Regions from separate parts of the Homo sapiens genome. Here region 2 is linked to region 1. Evidence: fine-mapped expression QTL. Tissue or cell type: whole blood. Region 1 holds a variant in brackets; the other region holds the start of a gene. All regions are shown on one strand. Distances are from middle to middle.

Evidence for each region. PIP is the estimated chance that this variant, and not a neighbour inherited with it, causes the effect.
Region 2: RPS6KA2 starts here. The variant in region 1 is fine-mapped to the expression of RPS6KA2 in whole blood (TOPMed, PIP above 0.99).

What each region holds. Positions count from the first base shown.
Region 1 is chr6:166,942,464-166,950,725 of GRCh38, forward strand. It overlaps RNASET2 (ribonuclease T2), which reads right to left. Exons shown (of 9, transcript NM_003730.6): 3 at 6,107-6,162; 4 at 4,219-4,276; 5 at 556-626. It also overlaps the pseudogene LOC105378119. Among named protein-coding and RNA genes, the nearest start is that of RNASET2, 10 kb to the right of the region's middle. RefSeq lists enhancers at 7,078-7,763, 7,889-7,938, 8,059-8,262 and silencers at 7,218-7,512, 7,219-7,288. The variant C/T (reference allele first, on the strand shown) is at 4,073.
Region 2 is chr6:166,623,726-166,631,725 of GRCh38, forward strand. RPS6KA2 (ribosomal protein S6 kinase A2) reads right to left here and starts at 3,526. Exons shown (of 21, transcript NM_021135.6): 1 at 3,196-3,526. The coding sequence starts at 3,294. RefSeq lists silencers at 3,396-3,745, 3,806-3,975, 4,226-4,285.

The sequences.
Region 1 (8,262 bases):
TCAGAAGAGAAAATTTGTATCTTTATTTTGTTTTTGAGACAGGGTCTCACCCTGTCACCTAGGCTAGTTATCACCCCAGCTGATCACAGCTCATTGCAACCTTGATCTCCCGGGACCACAGCCGCACAATACCACATCTAGCTGACCTTTTAAATTTTTGGTAGAGGTGGCATTTTGTCATGTTACCAGGCTGGTCTCAAACTCCTCAGCTCAAGCAATCCACCCGCCTCAGCCTCCCAAAGTGCTAGGATTACAGGCACGAGCCATTGTGACTGGCCGAGAAAAGTTTTAAAGCAAAGTAATAAATACCATACAGGTTAGAAAACAGGCTTATATGGTAAATTCCACTTGCTTTCAATTTTTTATACATTGGAGAAAGGCACCAAAAATGCCGTAACAGAATCATATCTCATAAAAGGTTGTTCAAACTGCTCAGCCCCAGAAGACAGATTCTGTTATCTTGCTTCCCACACAGTTTCCACTTCTAGCGATTCATCACGCTCCCCACACCCGCTCAGACAGTAATCAAGACAGCAATCAGAGGCTGGGACTTACCAGAAGCGGCTGCGATTGGGAAACGAGTGAATTACGTCAGGCCAGTATGCCCTCATTTCTGGCAAAAGATCCTATGCATTAAAAAATAAAATAAGTCTACGCAGGTTCTTAATAATAAACTCAAAACCTAGAAGGTAAATTTGATAAACTGACACCAAAGAATTGAGCTCTGCTAATTAACAATACTTTGGTGAATAAAATAATCCTATGCTTATTTTGTATGAAGTGTTTGTTAAGATATATCTACAAGTGCAATTTGAGTAATCATAAAACTGCACACGAAAATACAAGCTGTTATAGGTGAAGGGATAAAGTGTACATCCAAACAATGGAATATTTTCAGCAACAAAAACCAATGAGCCGTCGAGTCATGAAAAGACACTGGAGGAACTGCAAACATACATTGCTAAGTGCAAGAAGCCAGTCTGCAGAGGCTACATACTGTATGATTCCAACGACGTGACAATTTGGAAAAGGTAGTCTTAAGAGACAGGAATGAGATTCGCGGTTGCTTGGGGGTTCAAGGGGAGGAAGAAGGGGAGGTATGGCTCAGGGGGTTTAGGGCCAGCGGCTGCTCCAGAGCACACTGGGTGGGACTTGCTCTCCTGCATTTGTCCAAAGCCGCACAACACAGGAGTAAACCCTAATGTTAATGCTAAACTTTATTTAATAATAAAGTATCAGTATCAGTTCATTAATTGTAACAAATGTAACACACTATAGAAGATGTTAATGATTGGGAGAGTTGAGGGGGAAGGGAGTGAACTGTCTGTAATCTCCATCCAATTTTTCTGTAAACCTATAACTGTTCTAAAAACATTGGCCGGGCACGGTGGCTCACGCCTGTAATCCCAGCACTTTCGGAGGCCGATGCGGGCGGATCACGAGGTCAGGAGATCGAGACCATCCTGGCCAACCTGGTGAAACCCTGTCTCTACTAAAAATACAAAAATTAGCTGGGCACGGTGCCACATGCCTGTAATCCCAGCTACTCAGGAGGCTGAGGCAGGAGAATCGCTTGAACCAGGGAGTCGGAGGTTGCAGTGAGCCGAGATTGCGCCACTGCACTCCAGCCTGGCGACAGAGTGAGACTCCATCTTAAAAAAAAACAAAACGAAACCATCAGTTAAAACAAACAAACAAACAAAGGACAAGCTCTCCTTTTCCCAGAGAAGAGCTTGTGTGAGCTGGGCAGCCTGGGCACCAGTCGCGCTAAATCCAACAGAACTGGAGTTTACTTTTCTATTTCTACACACCCTCTACACCAAAAAAACCCCAAAAAGGTCAGTAAAAAGGTGCTTAACAAACTTCGGATAACTTCACTTTCCTTCCCTTTCTCCTGTTTTCCAGCACCCTATATGAGGGTCCTTTTCTCAGCCCATTTGTAACTCAGCCCCTACCCCACAGCCCCTGCCTGTGTGGGCGCAGCTCTGTCCCCCTCCTCTTCCCCTCCAGCCCCCCACCCCACCTCTCCTGCCCCACCATGCTGGCTTCAGCCCCATCAGCTCTCCGAGATGTCCTAGGGCACGATATGATTGAGTGTGCAAATTGGGCTACTTCCGTTTGGGACAATGCAAAGGTGTTCCTACTGCTACACAACAAGGAAGCCAGGACTACTCTGAGGAGCAGCGGCTCACACCACCACAGACCCACGACCCACCCACGCCCCCACTCAAAAAGCATTTCAGCTTTCCTGTCCTGGACCCCCCGGGGATATGCAGTCCTACGGTGCCTCTTCTCAAATCTCTCCACTCCTGGGTTTCCGCCTTTCCCAGCTGCAGGCACACATGCCCCTTTCCACCTGGCTGTTAACACGGGGCTCCACCAGCACTGTCCCCTCTGCCCACCAGGCCCACACCTGTCAGCGCTGTCCCCTTAGCCCACCCACATCCGTCAGCCCTGCCCCCTCACCCACCCACGTCCACACCTGTCAGCCCTGCCCTCACCCACCCACGTCCACACCTGTCAGCCCTGCCCTCACCCACCCACGTCCACACCTGTCAGCCCTGCCCTCACCCACCCACGTCCACATCTGTCAGCCCTGCCCTCACCCACCCACGTCCACACCTGTCAGCCCTGCCCTCACCCATCCACGTCCACACCTGTCAGCCCTGCCCCCTCATCCACCCACGTCCACACCTGTCGGCCCTGACTCCTCACCCATCCATGTCCACAGACCCATGTCCATCCCCACACCTGTCATTTTGATTCACCATCCTCATGCTAACTATGCCTAAAGCCACCTTTCCTCTGACCCTGAAGATCCTCTATGTCACCCCCTGGAGGTCTCAAGGGCACTTCAAACTCAATGTATCCTGAAGTGGCCTCTTCATCACGCCTCCCCAGAAACCATTCCCTGCAGTGAGTCCCGGAGGAGAGGAGGAGAGTCTGTGTGAGGAGCTAGAGACAGCACCAGGCTCTGGGGTGTCCCTTCTAAGTCTCACGGCAGTCCCCAGCCTCTTGGCTCATCCCACTGAAGGTCTTCACGGGGAGGAAAAAGAAAACAATTCCATATGGATTAGAACTTGTGGGCTGGGCGCGGTGGCTCCCACCTGTAATCCCAGCACTTTGGGAGGCCGAGGCAGGTGGATCACCTGAGGTCAGGAGTTCGAGACCAGTCTGACCAACATGGGGAAACCCCATGTCTACTAAAAATACAAAATAAGCCGGGCATGGTGGCGCATGCCTGTAATCCCAGCTACTCAGGAGGCTGAGGCAGGAGAATTGCTTGAACCCGGGAGGTGGAGGTTGCAGTGAGCCAAGATTGCGCCACTGCACTCCAGCCTGGGCAACAAGAGCAAAACTCTGTCTCAAAAAAAAAAAAAAAAAGAAAAGAAAAGAAAAAAAGAACTTGTGATGGATTTGCAACTAATGACCTTGGGGAATGTACCATTCCTAGGAAAGACCCACAACTCCCGCAAGCCTTCAATGCTACCACACGTTTTAAAGAAGGCCTCAGTTACCACCCCCTCCCTGGGGTCCAGGTCCAGTTACCCTGGTATATACTGGTTACACACAGGAACTGTTGGCACCCCTAAGGAAAGATGAGGGCGTGTGTGTGAGTGAAGACTCCGTATGACATATAAGGTACGGGTATCTCAAAGGAACGCCTCTGCTAGTATCTCTAATAAATTCCCGCCCTGTGAGTTTTCTTTAATCAAGCTCTTGTACTGGAAAGGCCCAGCATGTCCACCTGCTCAGAAACCCATCCACCAGATAGGACGGCCCCAGGCCTGTGCTCTCTGAGCCTCAGCTGTCTGGAGATGCCTGGCGATATGGCACACCGACCAGATTCCCACGTCGGTCATCTGACCCAGAAGTCCTGGGGCCTGGGACGAGGCGGGGCTGGCGGGCGAGCGTCAGGATCTGCACAGGTCTGGCATGGGGGAGTGTCAGGGCTTGCTCCGGTCGGAGCCCCTCGCTCAGGCCCCTCATGCAGTGGCTTGGGCACAGGGCAGGGGAGGGGAGGAGAGGGAAAAGGTCAATTGGTGTAATTTGTGGGGTCGAGATAACAATA[C/T]TTACTAAAACAGCAGCAAGGGCTCAATCCTGGTGAATACATTCATGACCCCTTAATTTTAAAGATGACTTTGAAGGTACGCTTGTGAAGAAAAGAGTTAATCTAGGTCAACACTCTGCAGTAGAAATATAATTAAAAGTCAATACCTTAATCTCTTCTAAATTGAAGGGCCACGATCTATTACATCCTTCACTTTTATCGGGCCTGGAAATTCAAATTTAAAAGAGAAAATAAGAAATATTAGGCTTGGTTGGGGTGGCTTCTACATGACCTTAGAAAACACTTTCATTGAAGTCTGCAAAGAATAAAAAGAGAAATTCTAATTGGGAATTCCTTATCCCAGGCAGGATGCTTAAGAAAGAAGATGCAGGTAAGAGGAGTCAGAGTTCAAATTTCTTTAGAAGGGAAAAGAAATTGTGTTAAACCGTCCAGGAGTAATGCAGACAGGCCACTGCTTAGTAAAGGAAGTGCAATGGATAGCCTAGTAGCACCGAGGAGCGGGGACTCTGGGGTCAGCCCCGGCTGGGTTGACGGCAACCTCTGCTGCTCCCTAGCACCGAGACCTAAGTAAGCTGACCCCCGGCCAATCTCCGCACCACAGATCCAGCATGAGAACAGCGAGAGTCTGTTCCTTTCAATGGTGAGGAGGACTCCAGGAGATGACAGATAAAACATGTCAGAAAGTGCCTGGCGTATGGCAGAAGATCAGCTAGTAGGATTTTCATTTCATTTTCAGTAGCAAACGCACTTACACTGTCTAGAACTTTAACTCCATCCTCACACATCTAATTCTGGACTTATCAACTCTGACTCTTGAGTGCTGCTTACTCCACAAGGTCACTAACTTCCTAAGACCCCGACCCCTCAGAGCCCCAAAGAGGCCAGGGAGGAGAGTGTCTTCAGGGTCAACAGCTGGACCAGCATGTGAAACCTGCCTGATTCTATCCGCTGGACTGGACAGCATTGCAAAGCTTCATTCCAGCCTCAGAAATGAAACGGCCATGATGGGCAGAGGTACATTCAGAGCACTTGGTCACAGCAGGGGAGAGGACACCACGCAAAGTCTAGCAAAGCCAGGAGCCCCAGAGACAGGAGGTCAAGGTTATCTGACCAGACAGAGAAGAAAGTGAAACCCGAAGCCAAGTACCTACATCCCAGTTTAACTTGTTTTCCACCAATCCCTCTTCCTAAGGAGCCAGGAGGCACCAATTAAGCTAAAAGGGCCCTTTTCAATCCCGGCATCGAGGCAGTGGGACAAAACGGGTCCTTCAGATGGGGCGATTAATGTGCACAGTTCAGCGTCACAAGTATGTCCATGTTACATAGAAAAGAATTAACTGAACAAAACGCAGACAAAACCAGAATAATAAATTTGAGTGTCTCTGAAATGTGTACGAGACGTGCATTTATGTATTTTCATGTAGTTATTTATAATAAACCCCAAGAGAAGAACAAAATGAGAAAATTAAAATGTAGTGACCCTGACATGTACCGAGAATCTGTAAACACTATTTTAAAAAGTGTTATTGGCTGGGCACAGTGGCTCACACCTGTAATCCCAGCACTTTGGGAGGCCAAGGTGGATGGATCACCTGAGGTCAGGAGGTCGAGACCAGCCTGACAAACATGGTGAAATCCTGTCTCTACTAAAAATACAAAAAATAGCCGGGTGTGGTGGGGCGTGCCTGCAATTCCAGCTACTTGGGAGGCTGGAGCAGGAGAATCACTTGAACCTGGGAGGTGGAGGTTGCAGTGAGCCAAGATCGTGCCACTGCACTTCAGCCTAGGCAACAGAGTAAGACTCTGTCTCAGAAAAAAAAAAAAAAAGTGTTATTGTTCTATGAAGACAGAATTAAAGAACAAGAGAATCAGGGTTCTGCTAGAAAGACTAAAGATATTTTTAAATAAGAATCTAGTCTATTGGATAAACTCCTAAAAATAAAAAACAAGAATAAATATTAAGACCACATTCAAGCTAGGGTTCCCAGTCAGCAAGCCTCTTCTGCCTAAGATTTAATTGTGTGAGACACTTGCCATAGTCCATGTATTGTCCAGTAATCCGGAGGGTCTCTACAGTCGTTTTGAATTTTCTAGGGAGAAAATATAACAAGAAAATGATTGGCTCTTTGTTTATTCAAATACACTTAGGAACCCTATTAAAATACATTTAGCAGCTAGTTGCAACATATGCCAACGAGATACAGGTACTGCACTAATAACACAAGCTAAAGCCAGGGCTACTTCACAATACATTGCTTACAACAACACATCCATGAGGAAGCTACACTAGGGCTGGATGTTCTAAGCCAAACGTCAAACAACTGACTTAACAGAAACAGCCATTTTTGTTAAGCCATTCCTCAAATATTTGACTTAACAGAAACAGGTGTTTTTATGGGCCAGGCGCAGTGACTAATGCCTGTAATCCCAGCACTTTGGGAGGCCAAGGCGGGTAGATCACCTGAGGTCAGGAGTTCCAGACCAGCCTGGCCAACCTGGTGAAACCCCATCTCTACTAAAAATACAAAATTAGCTGGGCGTGGTGGCAGGCGCTAATAGTCACTACTACTCAGGAGGCTGAGGCAGGAGAATTGCTTGAACTCAGTGAGCCGAGATCATGCCATTGCACTCCAGCCTAGGTGACAAGAAAAAAACCGTGTCTCCAAAAAAAAAAAAAAAAAAAAAAGGCTGGGCACAGTGGCTCACGCCTGTAATCTCAGCACTTTGGGAGGCGGAGGTGGGCAGATCATGAGGTCAGGAGATCGAGACCATCCTGGCCAACCTGTGAAACCCTGTCTCTACTAAAAATACAAAAATTAGCCAGGTGTGGTGGTGGGCTCCTACAGTTCCAGCTCCTCAGGAGGCTGAGGCAGGAGAATAGCTTGAACCCGGGAGGCAGAGCTTGCAGTGAGCCGAGATCGCGCCACTGCACTCCAGCCTGGGTGATAGAGCAAGACTCCATCTCAAAAAAAAAAAAAAAAAAAAAAAAAGAAAGAAATGATCAAGGGCATAATCTGAGCCAGATAAGTGAAACTGCATTTTCATTTGTCAACAGAAAAATCAGTTGAGGAAGTAGAACAGAAAGTCCTTACTGCTCAGTGCTGGAGAAAGAGGGTCAGAGGCCAAAACCTGTAACTTCACCTCTGCCACTCAACTCTATCCCTCAGGGAACCCAGTTCAAAGCCAGAAGCTGGGCTCCTTTCCTGGAGGCAATGCAGAGAGCAAAGCCTGCACCACACGGGGCTCTGAGGGCTCTGCACAGCACTCAGTTCCCAGGCCTGCCTGCATGGAGCTGTGGGAGAGCCCAGAACACTGAGAACCCGACAGGCAGACTGAGCATCTTTGACACAAGCATCTCATCAGAGGGGGCACCAGGGACAGCCCTCACTGCCTAGGAGGACACCTGGGCTCAAACAGAACCCTTCACCATGGCTGCCCAGTAGGAAATACACTCCTTAACAAGGACATTTTGCTACAGATTTTTTTTTAAATCTTGTTTCTAAAGCCTCAAGGCAAAGATGTGCCTCCACCCATATTTACATTCAGTGTGCAGGGACACACCCACGTTTTGTCATGTAAATGCCTCCCTGAATGCAGAGCAGCCTGGTCTCAGGCCCTGGAGGCAGATCCTTCAGTGTGGGTCAAAGACAGTGCTTAAGTTCCAGCTCCTCCTCCACGGTCCTTCTTCCGTAGGAACCAAGGACTCCAGCAATCCCTCCCTATCTCAGAATGCCAGCTACACTCCCAACAATTGAAAGTTGATGCCAGGCAGCTTCCGGCTCCTTCTGTCCACTGCCCCAACCCAAGGCAAGGAAACAGCAGCAGGAGCGCAACATTAAGTCTGCAAAACTGAAAACGGGGCAATCTCGTGTACAGAAGTGAGCAAGAGCATAATTTGAGCCAGATAAGCAAAATTTCATTTTCGTTTGTCATCAGAAAAATCAGTGAGGAAGTAGAAGCGAAAGTCACTACCACTCAGTGCTAGAGGCAAAACATAAAGCCTGCGTGCTCCTGACAGAATGTGGTGCTAGCTCAGCAACACGGTCAAACACTTGAGAAGTGTGCAATGCACACCAGGGTCAGCTTGACACACCGAGCAGGGTACGCCCTGAGGTGCAGATCCAGGCAGTGTCCTGGCTCTGGGTGCTCCAATGAGAAGGGCCTGGACACTGACGCACTGAAGGGATGTG
Region 2 (8,000 bases), 320 kb before region 1:
GTCACTGAGACCTGACACCTTTCTGGGGCACACCCATGGAAGTCTATGGAAGATACCCAGTTTTCCTCTAGAAACCCCCAAAATTATAGTTGCCAGAGTCAACAACTTGGCCATCTCACTTGGTTCTATGCTGATAGAGGACAAAAATATTCAGTGAATTTCATTTTAATCTGTAATTAATAAACTGTTTCCAAATATGATTAAGTAACCTGACTTCTCTGTCACTTAGGGTTTAGCAAATGTTGGGTTATGGACGTAAAATTTATTTTAAAATCAAGTATGTTCAGAGAAGTTTTGCCAAGCATAAATGTAAAAGAGAGGAAAAAAAAGAAGGAACTTTAGAAATTTCTCATTATTTAAAAAAATAAAAAATGAAAATAAATAAAATCAAGTATGAAAACATTAGGACTGAGTCTCTCTCTGAAAGCCTTTTAAATGAAGATATTGTTTTCAACTTAAAGTAACTACATTAATTTCCTGTTTATGTCACTAGACTTTGAATTTCAAATAACAAAAATTTTCAAAGTCTTTGTATATTTCAAAATATAAATTTCACAGAAACAATTTTAAAATGTTTCCTATTATAAAACAAGTTATCTTTCTCATTCATCCACACAGAGGAAATACACATCTGTGTTCAGTACTTTGTGTCCTATTTCTCAACCTCAATCCATTGACAGACCTCCCCTGCTCAGTTTTACATTTTTTGATGAGTGCTTCTTGGCCTATAACCAGCTGTGAACACACAAACGAACAGGCAGCCTTCTCAAGTATGGGTAGGGCGCAGAAGAGGAACTTACTGGACTGGGGCACAAAGTCAGCTGCTTGTGAGACTCATCACTGGGTGGAAGTGCCCTGAGGCCAGGACTTCTATGTCTCGTGTCTTTTTGGACACAGTATCCAGAAAAAGACCAGCCCAAGACCCGGTCCTCCATAAACACTTGCAGAATGAATTCCTTGGAAAGCTTTTAACAAGACTCTCAAACTCTCAGGGTTTCTTCCCCTTAGCAATAGAATGAGGAAAGTTACATATGCTACCCCGATTTTCACAAGTATCAAATAATAGAAAGCTGGGGAATGCATTTGTAAAAAAGAGAGCATTGTATTAGCATTGACCTTTTTTTTTTTGAGACAAGTCTCGCTCTCTCGCCAGGCTGGAGTGCAGTGGCGCAATCTCGGCTCACTGCAACCTCTGACTCCCTGGTTCAAGCGATTCTCCTGCCTCAGCCTCCTGAGCAGCTGGGATTACAGGCACGCGCCACCATGCCCAGCTAATTTTTGTATATTTAGTAGAGATGGGGTTTCTCCATGTTGGCCAGAATGGTCTCGATCTCCTGACCTCATAATCCGCCCGCCTTAGGCTCCCAAAGGGCTGGCATTACAGGCATGAGCCACTGCGCCCGGCCATTATTGACCATCTTAGTGAGACCTCCAGCACCTAGTACGGGATCTGGCACACAGGAAGCACTAATTGACTACTTGCTCTTAGACTACATGTATTTTCAGCCCATTTGACCTCCTACATCGCTGATGGTTTATGTATGACTTCTAGAAATTTTATTTCTACATGGAAGAAACCTCGTTTCCTATTCCCACCACCCCCCCACCCCCCCCCCCGCTTGTTTCCCACTGTATTCTTTCCGGAGGCACGCCTGCAGCCCAGCCCTCCTTGCAGAACCCTGTGACACCAGAGGCGTGTGTATCCAGAATCAGGCAGATTCCTGAACTCCCACTGGTCAGCCAGTGTCTAGTGCTGCTCTTCATAAACAATGCCTGGAGTGTGCTCACACGTGTACCTCTTCTTGGCAAAGACAGTAAATGGAAGGAGACAAGGAGTTGTCTAATAAACTTGGCATTGAGATGAAACAGGAAACAAAGACATGTATCCGGATAAAGATAAATACTGTTCTGAGTTTCTGATCTTGTCAACTTCAGATTTTTTAAGTGCCTGTGTCCCAGGAAAATGATTTGCCTCACTGGTGTGCTTCATTTCTTTCAATATTAGACTTAAAAGCAAGCCCTCCTCCAGTACTGGATTAACAGTTTTGTTTGAAAGATGTGTTTTACCCTCGGGAACCGGCCATACTGATCCTATCTAGTACTTCCAATTCTGATTTAGGGATGCCATAAGAGAAACTTTTTAAACAAGTAATTCTCTTCTACTTTTTTGTCTATTCCTCAGGTCTCTCAATGGTTACAGAACCCATGTCTGTGTCTAATATCATGGCAGCTGGGACAAAGAAAACCAAGATGAAACATTTGAGATTGTTCCAGCTGAAACAAACCAACCAAAACCCCACAGGTGCCAGCCTTGAGGCAAAGGCGGGACAGTGTCAGGCGAAATCTTTGGGTCCCAGCCTCAGTCTCCCCATCACCATGTCTTTTTCACTTAAACACGTTTCACTGTTTTGTCATCTATAGATTCAACAATGTGATTTGGACACTGGGAATAAGAGAATAAGATTTGATGGTTGAAATAAAACACACCACGAGAGAACCGTCCACAAGGAAACTCTAAGATGCCAAGATGCGGGACAGGTAGAAAGGACAGGGCTTTGGGAGTACTCTGGGTTTTCAGGACGAATCTGTATCAGCCTCGGCGCTGCGAGGATATTGCATCAGGCTCTTTACTCCTGAACGCCGTTTTAGACGCCTAAGCAGATTGTGCTGCTGCCTGTTCTTCCCCGTTCTGTGAATTCTACACTGACTTCAAGTGCACGAATGAGCTACAAGATAAGGTGGAACCTGCCGGCCGGGCACGGCAGACAGCACCTGATCAGCGCCTCGGAGGGCGGAGCTGGGGGGCTTCTCCACTCGGGACTTTGAGGGACCCCCGCGGAGCGCTCCGCGCCACTCGGCGGTCTAGCTGCAGAGAAAGCCCCTCCTCACCCGGGGCTCCCTGTGGCCCACAGGGGACCATCCCACACCCCGTGCAGCCAGCGGCGGAGAAACCAGCTGGAAATGCAGTGGGGGTGGAGTTGCCCCCGCGAGGACCCACGGACCGCCCAATTACTACGGAGTCCCAGCGATAACGTTTGGAGCCGTTTGGTTCGATTTTCGGAACCGGACCAGCTTTCCAGTAACTTGAACTCCCTGACGGGTCTCGGGGTCCACCCAGGGGTGGCGAGGCGGGCTCGGGCGACCACGGCCCGCTCAGTGCCCGGCACCTGCGCGCCCCGAGGGCGGCCGCATTACCTCGAGCCGGCTCAGGCTGGAGCTCTTGGAGCGCGACTTCCTGCGCAGGTACACAGAGAAGAACCTGCGCACGGCGAACTTCTTCATGCTCAGGTCCATCGCCCCGCGCCCAGCCCGGAGCAGCCGCAGGGCCGGGGGACGCGCATCCCCGGCATCCCAGGCGCGGGGCTCAGGTCCGCGGGCGGGCACGCGTGGCCAGGGAGCCCGGCACGGCGGCCATGGGCGCGGGGCGTGGGGCGCGAGCTGCGGTCACAAAGGGCAGGCCGCGCCGGCCACCGCGGCCGGGGCCACAATCGCTCCCTCCGCCTCCTTCTCCGCCTCCCCTGCGAGTACCAGCGCCGGCCACGCGCCACGCCTACACCACGCCCACCACCACTACCACCAATCAGCGCCCGCCGCTCCGCGCCCCGGCACGCACACCTCCTCCTCCTCCGCCCCGCCCCGCCACTACGGCCAATCAGCGCTCACCACCCCTCCCGTTCCCACCCACCACCAGCACTGCCAATGAGAGCCCACCGCCCCGCCCGGGAGAGCCCCGCCTCTGCCGATACCTCCAATCATCAGCGCCGCCCTGTGGTTCCAGGTGCCCATCCCTCCTCCTCTTTCTACTCCTTCCTACAAGAACCAGCTCCGTGCAGCCCCGCCCCCACGCGGTTCCGCCCACGGCCCCGCCCACAGCACTGCCCGCCAATCAGTGCCCGCAGCCGCCGCATACCTAATGAGCCTCGGCCCGGGACAGCTCCCGGCCCGGGCGAGTTGTGCAGCTGCTCCGGAGCCGCGCAGTCGCGGGCGTTCCTGTCACGCAACTTCGGCCCGGCTGCTCTTTCTTCCAGCTTGGGGCCGTCATTATGTTTTCCTTCCTTAAAACATCCCTATGCACACTTTGTCATCATGTTTTTCTCTGCCGAACCAAACTTTAATTGTTGATCAGCAAACGCAGCCAAAACCTCAGCGGCACAGCGAGCGAGGGACCGCCGCCTGCCAGCGGGCCCTGCAGCTCGGCCAGGAGCCGCCCTCCGCGGAACCGGCGCCTTCCCTCCGCCGGAGCGGACAAAGGCGCCCGAGGGCGGGGGCTCAGGCAGCCCTCGGGGCGCCTCCCTCCCGCGGCTGCAGAACAAAGACGCATCCGCCCTCCGCAGCCGGTCCCGCTCTAGGAAACGTCTACACAGATGGCTTATCAGGGCCCGCGCTGGGAATACCCGGGCGGGGTGACCTGGGTCTAGGGCAAGGCCCTCAGACCCGCTGCTGGCGGCAGCGCCGCTCGGGATCCGCCTTAAAGGGAAACACTTTTTTCTTTTTTTTCCTAGAAATGCTCACCAAGGGCTGCAGCAGGGCCGAGAATGCGGGCTCACGACCCCGTGCAGCCTGCTCTGTTTTCCTCTTGTGCACGTGTTGAGTTTGTATTTAAAAACAGGGAGAAACCGAGCCCATTGACATAGCACCATCACCACCTGCAAAGAGCAGAAACGAGTGCGGTGGTGAGTTGACAAGTCTTGCTTGCTCTTTTGCAGTGCGAACTGCAAAATCCTCGCGTTGTTTTGCTCCCTGGACTAGTCAGATGTTGCGTTAATACTTGTGTAGTCTATTTTGGCTAAGGTGGGTAGAGAGGTCAGAATGTCCTTAAATAAGAGCTTTAAAGTCATGCTGCATCCGGGCTGAGGTGAGGTCAGATAGGCTCTCTGGGTTTCCTGGAGACCCGCGTTGAGCGGTGCTGCTCCGGAGTGGAAGCCGGGAGTTTAGCACCACGACTCTGGCGCTGCCCCTTCCTTGCTTGGTGAACTTGGGTGCCGTTGCACGTTGTTCCCACGACTCATCTCTAAGAGGAAAATACGAGTGAAACCTGTCTCACCTCCCTTACTGGATACCAAGAGGCTTATGCAAGATCACGGATGTGGGAGTGCTTTGTGAATTTAAATAGTGCAATTGATTTTCATATTATGTATTAAAGGATCTATAATGACTATTCTTTAAAAACAGAAGTGCAGGACCCCACAAGGACACCAAACACCACTTTTTGCTCCTTTTCAAGATGGTGTGCCAGTTAAGTGCCCATGAAAACTGCTTTGCCTGCTTCCTTTAAGGTTCTGCTGGGAGGGTAGTAATCTGTGCTCTCAGAACCAGCCTCTTAGTGCCCTGTATCCCTGCTGGGACCCTCAGGCATCCTGGCTCTAGGCAAACACAAAGACACTCTGTACCCAGCACGGGAAGAGGTAGATGGACCTCCAACTGGACACAGACTCCGGGAATGAGGGAGGACCAACCCGACCATGCTTCCCTCGGAAGGGGAGCCAGTAATACTGGCCGGAGACAGGAGTGCTGAATGCCACCTATACCAACTCATGGGCATCCTGTTCAGGACAAAAGCCCCAAGGCAGGCAGGCCTAAGTCAAGGCTTGTGTTGTACCAACAATAGTATTTTGACCTGATCTGACAAAATTGGAAAGGAAATATTTCATGGGACATTCATTAGTTCCCCAAATTTGAAGGCAACAAAACTGTTCTGTTGAACTTGGGAGGGAAAATCATTCAGATTTCACTGGAATTCATTGCTAGAACAATAAATCTGTTTGCCTTTGTTTTTCTCCTGGTAAAATACACGTATACCAAAATCTCTAGTGATCATGGAACACTACTTCATGTGATTATGTAATGAAATCCTCCAAAACCACTAAATCTAGGGTAGGTATAATATCAAGACCCACTGTAACCGAAATCCAAATTATCCTTACCAAATACCAGAAAAGAAAGTGAACTTGATAAAGGCTCTTGCCCAGATGATGGAATGGGAGAGGACTGAAGAGAAGATAAAGAGCTTGGTAGACCTCTGAGTATCTCACATTTCCTCTGACTCAAGCACAGTAAGTTTGAGACTGAATTCCGTGGTGACTGCTGCTTCTATGAGTACCAGATTAGCTGATGTGTGGTCAATGCAATTCCACAAGTGATTATCGAGCACTAACATCTGGCACTGTGGTGGTCATTTGTGACACAAAATGATTACAACATCCCAAGAAGTTCACAGTCTTATGGAAGAGAAGGTGAGTGAACAGACAAAGCTCATGCCGTTTTTATGTAAAGTGAAAGAAATGCGTAAGAGATGAATGAGAAGCCAATTCTAATTGGCGAAGTCAAGGAGGAGATGGCCTTTGCTCTGAACCCCTGAGGGTAAGAAGATGAGGGAATAAGTTTCCTGGACAGACAAGAGGAGGCGGGAGTCCCAGGCTGAGGAATAACAGGGCACTGTCAGGCAGCTGTGACAAGGTTTCCCATCTCTCCCTGCTACACAGGCACCTTGTGGGTAAGGCTGGTGTGCTCTCTGCATATGGGAAGATGCCACATTCTCGGGGCACCCCACAGGAGTGGCTTGAGTGACATCCAAGAGCTTCTAATTAGTCAAGTACCACAAATGTCTGTTCGTCTCCAAACAGTCCTACAGGCTGCTGAAAGTTTCAAGCTTCTAAAACTCCCACATATTTTCAATAAAACGCTAAATTGCACTTCAAGTGAAACTATATATCTTTAAAATAAATTGAAACATTCGGTCTTCATTAGGACTAAAGTTTTGCCATGGGAGGTGAATTCACTAGGTTCACCTGATGCAAAACTTCACCAGGATCACCAGGGTCACCTGGTGCTGGCCATCTGCGAAAGCAGGAAGTCGTGCTTTTCCGGAGTATCAGCATTCGAAGGCTCTGCCCATCACAGGCATCCTGCTGGATGCTCCAGAGACAGTGTCCAGCCAGTACGAGGGAGGGAGGTGGGCTTCAGTGTGTGCCCCTGTGAACTACTTCCTGTGGCTGTGATACAAATGGGTTTAGTCAAGCTTCCCTTAGTGTAGTCCCTGAGTGTACAGAAAGGAATCCTTTTCCTGGGCTGTGGATCCCCGTGTACTTGAAATGTTTATGACTTTGAAGTTTCTTGAATGTAGGAATTAGTCCTTGCTCAGGAAGATGGTCTTAAAGTCCTGAGACCCTAGAAGGTAAACTGTAGTGGACAGTTCAGGTGGGGGCACGTTCGGAGCAGGTGTCAGCAAGGGGCCTGGAGCTGTCAGGGAAGGGCTTCTTGGGCCCTCGGCAAAAGTCAGAAGGGATCAAGTTTGCCTCTGGTCTCTGGCTGGCCCCTGGCCCTCACCCACAGGACACTTGGGTCTCATTCACATCTGGGTGCCAACCAAGCCATGTCAGAATGACACCTGTGCCCTCAGTTTAACAGTTTAAAATCTCTGAGCATATCGAAAATTTAAAAAGAAAGTCTTAATGCGTAAAAGTCTTCAAAATGACAGAAATAAAGCTCTAATGGTGAAGTACCAGGAAATGGAATTTACATTTGAAACCAGAGGGCCTGGTTTCTGAGTAGTCAGGAGAGGCAGGTGGAAACCCACAGGCCAGTTGTACTTGACCCTTATTGACTGGCTTACATTTAGGAAGAAAAACCACATTGGGTTTCAAGCTGTGGAAACCATCATGGTTGGCTTCCTCCCTCCCCGCTGGAGCCCTCATCCCCCATCCAACCTGGGTAGGAAGGCACAGGGCTCACAGAAGGTGGGCTTCACCTGCAACACCTCCCCCGCCAGCCCGCTGTGAGGACAGCTTTGGATTTTATTGGTTTTTAAATACTATGTTCCTTCATACCACTTTCTTTTGAAACCCATTTATAAACCATAGGGCCAGAATCTACAGAGAGGCTGATCAAATAACTTTCCTGGTAACACAGATTTTTTTTCGTCCCTCTGCCTGGGGCACTCTGGTGCCTTCCATGGTGTCAGCGGAGCACGGCTGGAGTCATGACTCCCAAACAGCGAGAAG